Linked DNA regions of Homo sapiens: region 2 is linked to region 1. Evidence: fine-mapped expression QTL. Tissue or cell type: testis. Region 1 holds a variant in brackets; the other region holds the start of a gene. All regions are shown on one strand. Distances are from middle to middle.

Region 1 (5,887 bases):
CTGCCACTCATGGCCAAATTCATGCTACCTGATATCAGCAACTAGTTCAAAAATGTTTGAAACCTTGAGCCAACTCATCTGGCCCAGAAGTGGCTCCAGACTGCTGGTCTGCAACTTGCCTGGTGGTTTACACTGGGTGCCTGCCCTCCTTGCAGGCTGCAGTAGACAGGCCAGTGCACAGGCTGGGGCAGCTGACTGGCTGGCTGCAGGGGTGCAGCTGGACGGCACCCTCCTTGGTCCCCCAGGCTGCTCACGCTGCTGTGGCCCCCCAAGGGTGCCAAGACGCTGTCCCTGACTGCTGTGCCCACGCTGGTCTGTTCTGTGTGGGTCTCTTTCTGGTCAGAAAGAGCCGTGTCTGTACGCAGAGCAGCCAAAAAAGCAAAAGCAAATCTAGAAATGAATGACGACCGCCTGAGTAAATGAAAAACCACAGAGCACGTCAGAACACACTGCAAAGACCACACAGCAACATGAAAGTTAGCAGCTGCCCATCTGAGTGGGGACAGGATTGGGGTCACATTCAGTTGTACGAACCTCACCAAGGTCTTGTAAAGATGACAACTGAATCCCTTCACTGAAACCTTGGAGTGGGGACCACTTCTTATATCTCACTTTGACATCTGCACGTCCCCAACCACAGACACAATGAAACCGGGCTTCTTACATATTGTGGGGTTGAACCTGGGTTCAAGAGTCAGCCTTGCCACATCTCAAAATACAAGAGGGGAGTGTGCTCAGCCTGGCACCATCCAAACCCATCCGTGCCCAGAGAGCCGAGTGGGCGTGTGAAGGAGCTGAGGAGGTTATGGAGAGGTGACCCCACTCTGCACCACCACCCCCCGGTAGCTCTTTCCGTCTGTAGTAAGAGTTAAGTCCAGTAGAGCCCACAGGACATAGCTCCTATCCACCACCATGTTGGGGGCCTGGGCTGCGTAGCCCTTGTGCAGGCATCATGATAGGGCCATTCGCGGCGCCACCCCAGGAGCCGGAAGGATGCCAACAAGGCGGCCGCTCAGAGCCCCACAGTGCAGCTTGACTCATGGACACAATTCGGCACAAGGCCAAGCCAGAGAGATATTCCTAGAAATGCCTTTTCCAAGAAAAGCCCAGAGGCAGGCGAGCGCACTGCCACTTTGGTGCAGGACTGTGTGTGGGGGTGTTATTTCCAGGGAAGCTGATGACAGAAGCCCCAACTCTGGTCATTAAACTCCCTCCTCCACAGTGGGAAATACCCACAGTCCTGGTCCTTCTATTGCTCAACTGCAGTTAGAAGCAGAAGTGCGAGTCTGAAGCACTATCCTACCGCAAGCTGTTTCGATGAACACAAGTTCCCTGTTCCTGCTCTCCGTTTCATCGGCAGTTCACCTTTACGTCCACGCACAGCCGTGTGGAATAGGCTCAGTCCACAGAGAGCCAGCGAATGCTGCACAAGGAAGCACGGACCGGACCACGCTTGCGTTAGAAACTCACCAAACAGCGCCCGGGGCTATCATGCCCGCTCCTGCCCGCGGTCCTTGCAGCAGGGGCACCTCCAGGGAGAGGGGACTCGCAAACTGCCCAGTCACCCGCAGCTGTCTCCCTCCCTCGTCACAGACCAGCACCCTCTGCCTGGGTCCCTTCCTTTCTGCATCAAAGGCCAAGAGCCAGTGCCCAGATGGGCTCTACCGACCTTCAGAGAGTCTAAGAAAAGATGGTGGATGAGCTTGTACATCACACTACATGGTGTTCACTTTTGAGGCTGAACAACTACTTCTCACTCCAGGACTGCAAGATTTGGAGGCCTCAATCCCCACTGTAGGATCTAAGATGGTCCTGTCCTGCTCAAAAGGACTTTGCCTGTTGGAGTGGGAGCCCAGAGATCTGGCTGAGCACCTTGAATGGCAGCTGGCCCTACCCTAAAAGCCCATGGTACCAGACCACGCTATAACAGCAGCAAGGCCACAGGGACACAGGGTGCTCCTCCTTCCTGCAAATGATACAAAAGTGTATGTGCAAATGAAAGCAAAGGACAAATCCAAAAAAGGCAAGCATCCTTATATATAAGAAATCTATATTTTTATACATTACATATGTAAATATGTATGTTTTTGCTTAGAAAAAAAAGTTTTTGCTTGTTTTCTAATAGCAAATGAGTAGAGTATTCTATCTGGGTCCAGGCTCTGGAAGGTGGTTTCATAACAGAGAGCTGCTTCCTCTTCGGGCAGAAATCTGTCCACGGCCCCCAACCCACAGGCCCTGCCCCAGCACGCTTTCCAGCTGGAAGGCTGATGGTGAAGCCCCCAGTCCACCCAGAGGTAAGTGGGAAGAATGTTCCTCATCAGACAGACATGGTGGAGCTGCCCTATCAGCACACAGCATTACACACAAAACCAGCCCACGTTTGTATCAGTGATTCCCCAACTTTGATATTTCACGCACTGTCAACATTAAAAATAGAATTGGGGGATGCATATATTGTACTTTTCATTTGGCCAGATAAGGGCTTTTTAAAAGCAAACTAAAACAAAGGGCCTCTCTACCACTTACTACAACATCATTTCCCAGAAGAATATTTCAACAACAAAAAGAAGGACATAATCTAAGACTAAACGATAGTTCTTTTAAGTGGAATAAATGAAGTCTTATGGAAAACTGAATGCCACTTTCAGCTCTCATTTTCTCCTTGAGCAGGAGAACATCACTATGGGCTGGCAGAGCCCTCAGGAACT[G/T]TCTGGAAGCAGGACCACAGTAGTCCAAGGGCCCAACTAGCTCTCATCTTGCAAAAGTGCTCCTTTATAATAAAATAAAAGAAAAACGTAAATGAGAGAAAAAGAGAGTTGAAAGTACAGAAGGTGTCAGTTAAAGAAAATATAGACAAAAAGATAGGGAGATAGAATAAGGCAAGGACGTTTTACCGATGTTTTCAATATAGGCTCTCTGTATTGCTAAAGCTTCTTCTCCCCACAAAAACCTCAAGAAATTTACAGACCTGCTAGATTCTAAAACCACTGAATGTCACAAAGGCGCTACTGCAATGATGTATACCGACTCCATAGCCTGGCAGAGATCAAATGCCCTTGGACTTCACAGAAAAAGAAAAAAAAAATCTGTAATTACTTGCTTCATGATGTCAAAGTACAAAATGCCAATGTAATATATATTAAAGCAAGATGAGTAAATATAAGTTAATATGCATCTAACCATTCACTTTCAAAACATATTAATACTCTTTACTTGAATAGACAGAAAATATAATCATATTTCCAGAAATGCCTAGTGTTCATAAAAAACACTTTCACTTATATCATCTCACCTAATACTATAAAAAACCCTGTGAGATAGGCATTTTACAGATGAGAGAAGAGAGGTTAAAATGACTTTTCTAAGAAATCCCAGAGAGAAAGCAAAAGCAAGTGAGTATTTCCAAAGCCCTTAATTCACTAACCCATACCACGCTGGCCACTTGGGGAACACGCAGTGTGTGCATTTGATACAAACTCTAGGACGCCTCTAATCATGACAAAATCATGCAAAACACACCACAGTAGGTCTGTGGGGTTATTACAACTCTGAGAACTTGAACTTTTACATTTCCTGACTTGGCAAGGCTAGCTGGTTGGGGAACTGAGCTGAAATTCTAACATGTTAATGTTATCTCAAACTAGGTTTCTGCATTTTAAGTTCCTGGAAGATCAGAGAGGGAGATTTGAGAGGATAGAGGCCAAGACAGAAAACTGACCTTTCCGGGCAGTCTGCAGCAACTGAATGTCAAGTGACAACAGCTAGTCTCAAAGGTCACACATCTCTTACTAAGCATAACTTGCCAGAATTCCTGTTCGTGCAGGGATTTGTGGGGAAAAATTTAAGATATAGAGTGTTAAATTACATCAAAGCTGGCATTCATTTTTAAAATCTGTACTTAAGTTTAAAACAATGAGCAACATAGTTTTCCAGAATTTATTTTATCATTGAATAGAGAAACTCTGAAGCACCGAGAATTTTTTAAGTGGCTAAAGAGCTACTATTTCAAATTGTTTAGGTCCTGCAGAACACAGTTTCCAAGTGACAGGTAAGACTTCTTTTGCTTTTGTTAACTAGAGAAATACGAATATTTGTCGTCTGACCATCCTCATTGGTTGATGATACAGAAAGCAAAAGTTGATTGTCAGCACCTGATACTTGGTAATAAACACCTTAATAAATACCCCGAGAGAGGTAGGTGTTCTGCCTGCCAACTTGAGGGGAATCATTTGATTACATGGTGAAAATATGCTCACCATTAAAAAGTACACTATGCCTTCCAGTAGAACACTTGTAACAGGTAAAAAGAAACTCAAGCTATTTCATCGCCTGCCTCTTAACAAGCTGAGTCACTCAAAGTTCCGAAGTCAGCTCCACCATTTCCACATAACTTTAGTACAGCAAGCAATATTTACAGTCATGGACATATGTGTGTCGAAGCCTTACTTATTCACAAGATTTGCTGTTACTAATGGGTTAAAAATAAACGTTTCCCCCAAAAATCACACAAGAGCATGACTCCCAACAGCAGAGTGTCCACTTTTCCCCACCTTTTCATGAGCTACGGTCCTGACTTCCTTTTTCAGCTGAAACAGAAGTCTTACTGTCGTAGCTTCACTGGAGAGTGCAGCACGGCGCATCCTCCACTCACAAGCCCCAGACACGGCACTGCCACACCTACCTAACCCCTAAGCCCACCCACGTTTCTAGTTTGCCTTTGTAACTCTTTGTCATCCAGATACATCAAAGGCCAAGAGCCAGTCATCCAGCCAAAGAAAGAGTTACAAAAGCAAACCATAAACTTAACAGGACCTCTTCACATATTTGGGATAGGAGAGAACTAATTAAAAGGGTAGGAGGAGGTGAGGGGTGAAAAATTGCTTAAAGAGTAAAACGTTCACTATTCGGGTGACGGATGCGCTAAAAGTCCAGACTTTGCCATTAAGCCTTATATCCATGTAACAAAATTGCACCTGCAACCCCTAAATCTATACGTATTTTAAAAAGAAAAAGTATGGGCTAGTCCTTCAGCACCAAAGGTGACTGGAATTAGGCTGGTTTTGACAGATGATCTGAACTGACCCACGAGACCTAGAACTCAGAGAAGAAGCTGGCATATCTCTGTCTCCCCTGTCCCTCCATGTCAGCAGGTCTCTCAAGTAACTGAAGCAGGCTTCCTGGGCACCAAAACTTGTTATTGCAACTACCTTTTCTGTAACTCTCAAGATACATTAATATACGCTGAGTGAAAACAGACTCAGTTTTACAAGTGCTCAGAGTTCGCAGAAAACACCTTCACATACATGCCCTTGCCTCCAAAAACCCTGAGGGCAGGCATTTTCAGATGGGAGAATGGAGGTGTAGATGGGTTAAAATGACCTGCCCAAGGTAGGTGTAACTGGCTTTACAGTTGAGATTTTCTAACATCTACGCCTACTACTTACTTGTCTATAGTGCAAGGGGTCACTCCACGCTTAAATCAGGTCACTGTCACAGACAAGAGAGCACTCAGCTCCTAGCAAAGCTGAGAAGCACTGGGGACAGCTCAAGGACAGGTAGCCACCTGCACTGACAGCAGATGTCCAGAGCCCAGAGTGGGTCACATCTGAGTTTTTCTTCTAAAGAATCAAATTGCCAATCAGGTACTGACAAGTTCAACAGCATGTCAGAATCTCGGTTTGAGATAAGAGCAAAGCAACCATTCTAAAAATAGCCACCAAAACATGGGCAGAAGATTGCTATGGTCTTCAGAGAAAGGCAGTGGCTCACTTCCTTCCGTGTGCACCATGCCTTCCAACCACTTCTGTTTCTTGACACGACTAGTAACCAAGGAAGTTCTCTAATGCTGCTTCTCCTCCTTCCAGGCCTAGAGTGCTACTCTGTTTTC
Region 2 (5,887 bases), 130 kb after region 1:
GAGTCTTTCCCAGAGTGGATGTGCAGCCACCACCTGCCCAGGGGGTATTTTCCCAGAGCATCATTTCTACTCTACAAAGAATTTTAAATTTTGTGGGGTTTATTTTGTTTGTTTGTTTGTTTGTTTTTTGAGATGAAGTCTTGTTCTGTTGCCCAGGCTGGAGTGCAGTGGTGTGATCTCGGCTCACTGCAACCTCCGCCTACTGGGTTCAAGTGATTCTCCTGCCTCAGCCTCCCGAGTAGCTGGGATTAAAAGCATGGGCCATCAGGCCTGGCTAATTTTTGTATTTTCAGTAGAGACGGGGTTTCACCATGTTGCCCAGGCTGGTCTCGAACTCCTGGCCTCAGGTGATCTGCCTACCTTAGCCTCACAAAGTGCTGAGATTACAAGCATGAGCCACTGCACCTGGCCAAATTTTGTTTTTATATTTAAAAATACCTGGACATATGGCCAGGAGCAGTGGCTCATGCCTGTAATCCCAGCACTTTGGGATGCTGAGGCGGGTAGATCATTTGAGGTCAGGAGTTCAAGACCAGCCTGGGCAACATGGTGAAACCCCATCTCTACTGAAAATACAAAAATTAGCTGACTGTGATGGTGGGTGCCTGTAATCTCAGGTACTCAGGAGGCTGAGGCAGGAGAATCACTTAATCCGGGAGGTGGAGGTTGCAGTGAGCCAAAATCATGCCACTGCGTGATCTGTCCAGCCTGAGCGACAGAACAAAACTCTGTCTAAAAACAAAAACAAAAAACCTGGACATACCAGAAAATAAAATGCAGAGGTCATTAACATTTTTAGCTTTTCTTTTCTTTTTTTTTTTTAAGGAACCTTAAAGAAATGCTTGTGTTTAAGACAAACAGGCACTCCACATGATTCCCCTAAGCTCTGACGATGTTTATTTGGGTACAGCCTCCTCAGTTTATTTGCCTGGGGAGGAAACTAAGGCCCAGAGAAGTGAAGAGACTCTCCCTCCTCATGGCTCTGTCCTCTGCGAGGAAGAAGCATGGACGTTGCTGTCACTTTGTCTCCAACGCACCCTCAGTGCCTAGAACAGTGACTGGTACCACTCCCTGGCATCACTCACTAAGTGCAGGTTGAGTGTCCCTTATTTGAAATACTTGGAACCAGAAGTGTTTCAGATTTCAAATTTTTTTTGATTTTGGAATATTTGCAGAATTCATTCTGGCTGAGCATCCCTAATCTGATATCCAACATCCAAAACGCTCCAGTGAGTGCCTTCTTTAAGGGTCGTTTTGGTACTAAAACAGTTTTGGAGCATTTTGTATTTTTGGATTAGGGATGCTTAACCTGTATTTACTGAATAACTCAATTAATTTTAAGAGGCGAAAGGACCCATAAAGCCTCTGAGTTGCCTAGGAAGTGGCCACATTAACTCCAAGGATGAGGCGGACACCTTCTCGGGGCAGGATCGAACTGTTTCTGATCTTCAGCATCTGGCCCCATAAAATGAGAAGGGTTTTGCCTTGGGGTGAAACTGACCCTGGCATCTCCCTGGAGATGAAAAGCTCCTTATTTCCTAAAGATTCTTCTCAGAGCCAGAGGAAGTATGCTGAAATAGTCACAGTGATCATTTCTCATGAAGAGATATGAGTTTTACCCTCTTTTTAACTTTCTTCCTAATTTTTAAATAATAAGGTTGTATCACTCACAAAATAAGAATAACTTTATAGCACTCTGTATACATACATATATATGTGTATATATGTGTGTGTGTATGTATATATATATGTGTGTGTGTGTAAAGTCAGCAACAACAAGCCTTCCCCAAAGCGGCACACTGTCTGCATTTCTTCAGTGCCAACGTGAGGCACTTATGGGCATCCCCAGGGACTTGTGCGCCAGGCAGCTCCCATCGGCCCCGACGGCCAGTCCTGCCCACATGTGTGACATATATGGTGCTCCCAGACCTCCAAGGTTTGGTAAGAAAGAAAAACACTTGGACAACACACAGCCAGGCCGTGAACGTCACTTAGAAACGGGACCCATAAGAGCGACCTTCCCTGCTTCTCACGAGCCAGTGCATGCCCACACCAGTCCAGGCCTTTTCTTCTTCTACTGAGTGCTGCTTCCCGTCTCAGCTGATAGCACCACCACTCGTAGGTGAGTCCCTGTTCAACAGAACTCAGAGCTTTGCATCCATGGAGTGCCATGAACAAAAGTCACCGGTGTTTCTTAGGGAGAGAACTGCTTTTGCTCAGGGTCAGGATGCCCCACCTGCTTGGGGTGGGGAAGTTGAAGCTGGAGGAAGAGCTGGCTGCTCTGCAGAAGTTCAGAGGAATTGGAAGATGGGGCCAGGGAGGATGTGAGGAAGGGGAGGAAGGCAGAGACGGTGCAGGTGACTCAGCAGGAGGCTGGAGTCTAGAGGGAGAAGCTCCTTGACTGGGGTTGCTGAAGGGGTTTTAGAAATGAGGCTGTCAAAAAACATCACAGCTGCCTACTGCTTAATTTCTAGCTGACTCTGTGTTTCTAACCGTCTGTAGAGACTCCACACAGATAAAGCCCCTGTGCCACGGATTCTAGGGGGACGGGGCAAGAAGCCCAGTGCCAGGGTAGGAAGGAGGCCTTGGGAGGGGAGGCTGAAGAGTGAAAACTCAGGAGCAGATGCCGGGAGGCAGAAGTGACATCTGAACACACAGCCTCCGAGACAGTCCCTGGGTGGGAGACACTGAGGTTTCTGTTGTGCGCTGGATACGGCTTAAGCCTAATTTTACCTCAAATTTCAAAGGCCAGGGCGATCCAAGCTGATATTTGAGTTCCATTACCAGGCATATTCCTTACAACAAGAAGAATGTAAATTCTGTGGAAATTCTAGAACTTCTTTTTTACATTTAAACACAATTCCTTTGTTCCCATATCCTGAAATCAGTAAATTTAAGCAATTTTATTTTTCATTCTGTGCTTCAGGGATCTATGAGGGTCAACACATATTTATCACACGCTGACCTTGTGCTCAGGCCTATAGGAAAATGAACCTCCCTGCCCGCAATGACCTTAGAACCTAACTAAGGATATGGTTAAAACAAGCGCAGGATTGGGTGAGACCTGCTCAAGGGTCAGGCGCTGGTTTGTCGGGGAGAAATGTTGCCCAGGAAGGACAGGTGTGAAAGAAAGAGAAGATCCTGCAAGACCGGAGGGCCCAGGAAAGTCTGGGGGACTCAAAGGAGAGTTTCAGGATTGACCATGGGTGGACAGGGCTCTGCAGACCAGGATCTTTTCTATGCACACTTGGGGCCAGAAAGTTCTTTGTGGTGGGGGCTGTCCTGTACAATGCAGGAAGCTCAGCAGCATCCCTGGCCTCCACCCACTCAATGCCAGTGGCACTCCCTCCCTAGTTGTAAATGTGTGCAGACATTAGTACTTGTCACCTGCAGGGAAGAATCACCCCACTGAGAACCACATGCTGAGTCAAGGCAACAGCATAGGAATTGGAGCACGCAAGAGAGCTGGTCAACACAGGTGAGCTCTTGTGTGGGCCTCTCTATGGGCCTCCAGCCAGTCCCCAGACAACTCTGCTCTGGGCACCAGTGGCCACGTTCTCAGGGCAGGCACTACTGGTGATCATTCTACTCACACCTCTCTCTGGCATCAATGGCCTGATTACACACTGGGGATAGTAGGTAGTAGGTATATTTAGAGGGGCACAAAAATAACCGTGGCTGCCAAGCCAAAAAATTCAGAATTGCTCTCCTTAGTACAGGTTTAATATCGCTAATCTGACTTCAGAGTTTTGGATTAGGGATGCCAAACTGGTAAGTATAATGCAAAGATTCCAAAATCCAAAAAATCTGAAATACAAAACACTTCTGGTGGCAAGCATTTGGGACAACAAAGTGTGGTATATTTCTGATGAGATTTTGTCGTGTTTCAGAAAAATTAATTTGATAGTGATGTGCCCAATTGAATGCAAGGAAGGAGCAGGGTTTTCTGACCTGGTGATTGTGGATACGCCTCAGGAGGCTGATGACAATGAAACTGCGCCATCATTGTGTGGGTTCATTTGCTTTTCTGAGGAGGGATTCCATAGATTTCATCCGACACTCCACAGGTTGAGAGCTCTTGGATTCAACTGGTGCCCAAACACAAGACAGGACCACCAGTGCATATTTGAATAGGACAATCCTTCTGCCCATCCATCTGGTCCCTGCTTCCACTTCCCACAAGCAAACATCCAGTCCACAAAACTCATTGAGCAGCTGCAGTGAGCTGTGTGCCAAGCATGTGCCAGGGACTGGAGCTGCAAAGAGAGATGGAGGCCACAGGGAAGAGGCCACGAGATAGTCAGTTGTCTCATGAAGTAGAATACAGGTGAAGCCAGATTATCACAAGCCATGAAAACCTTCTGGAGGTGACGTCTGAGCTTTGTCTTGCCAGTTGATCTCGCTAGAATACATACGAAGTAAAGAGGGGCCTGGAATTGCTGGTGGCTGAGGAAATGGGAGAGGAAAAAGCATGCCGGACAGTCACGGTGCAGGAAGCCCTCATCACTACTAAGACTTACTGACTAATCGCACACGGGGGAAGGAAGCTTGGGTGGCCGTGAGTCAAGGATCCAAGCCTGGAAGCCTGCAGACAATACTGACTGGGGTTGGCAGCAGAAAGGGGAGGACGTTTTGAGTGGGAAGACAATGAGTTTTGGTTTTAGATATCTTGAGTTGAAGGCAATGAGAGGATACCCAGAGACTATTCAGAACATCTTGAGAGGAACTGGGAATACAGGACTGCTGCTGGGGACATGTCAGGGAAAGAGGTGGGCAGAGAGGAAATGGGTCTGTTTTCTCAGGGGCAGTGAGGGGCACCGTCGAGCCAGCCTTCCACAGCTCTGGTTTCTCTGGGCACTTTCTTTCATGGGCTTCTTTGTGGGTCACAGACATGTTCGGTGGGGAGAAAAATCTCAGTAGAGCAACCTTCATTAAAGTTTCGGGTTCCAGGTTTGAATGAGTAGTTGGGTGTTGAGCAGGATCCTTCCCCGGAGTGATGAGGGGGAAGGGATGTTCAAGCACTGGGTGGAGGGTAGGCACATTCTATGTTTTGATAGAACCTCCTAGTCACATTCACCCCCATTGTGATGCCAGCCAGTGGTCCTCAAAACGTAGTGTCCATGAGAACCACTGAGAGCTTGTTAGGAAAAGCCATCAGCTCAGCCCCACCTCCCTAGAGATTGTGATGTTTAGGTCTGAGGTGGACTCATATGGGTTGTGTTTGTTTGTTTACTTTTTACACAGTAAATTTGGCTTTGTGGAGGTCAGTGGTGGAGTGTGCGGGTTTTATGAATTCTAGCACAGGGAGTGGATTTGTGTAACCACCACAATGCATGCAGAAAAGTTCCACCAGCCCAACAAGCTCCCTTAGCTACCGATTTCTACTCACACCTGACCCCACCTCACTCCCTTGGTAAACACAGGGCTTTTCTCTGTCACTATTGGTTTTTTATTTTCAAGTCTGGAATTATACAGTGTGTAACATTCAAGCCTGGCTTCATTCACTTAGAATAATGCCTATGAGATTCATCTGAGTTATTGTCTGTATCAATGGTTTGTTCCTTTTTAGTGCTGAGTAGTGTTCCATGGTATGGATGGACCACAGTTTGTCAGTTACCCAGTTGAAGGACATCTGGGTCCTTCAAGGTTTTGGCAATTGGAATCTGCCTTTAAACAAGCCCACTAGATGATTCTGATGCAAATGGTCCCAGATCACACAGTGCCCTAGGTTGTGCACAAATGCGAATACTTTTAACTTTGGCTGATCTGATCAGTGGGAGTATCTTATTATCAGATTTGCATATTTCTGATCGTCAGGAGGGTTGAGAATTTTTTAAAATCCTTATTGGCCATTTATGATTCTTCTTTGAATTGCCTACTCTTATGG

What was found. PIP is the estimated chance that this variant, and not a neighbour inherited with it, causes the effect.
Region 2: LINC03066 starts here. The variant in region 1 is fine-mapped to the expression of LINC03066 in testis (GTEx, PIP 0.91).

Annotation. Positions count from the first base shown.
Region 1 is chr6:336,745-342,631 of GRCh38, reverse strand. The region is part of intron 4 of DUSP22 (dual specificity phosphatase 22); the gene reads right to left. Among named protein-coding and RNA genes, the nearest start is that of DUSP22, 47 kb to the right of the region's middle. RefSeq lists an enhancer at 184-453 and a silencer at 3,433-3,632. The variant G/T (reference allele first, on the strand shown) is at 2,709.
Region 2 is chr6:202,478-208,364 of GRCh38, reverse strand. LINC03066 (long intergenic non-protein coding RNA 3066) reads left to right here and starts at 2,881. Exons shown (of 8, transcript NR_126020.1): 1 at 2,881-3,478.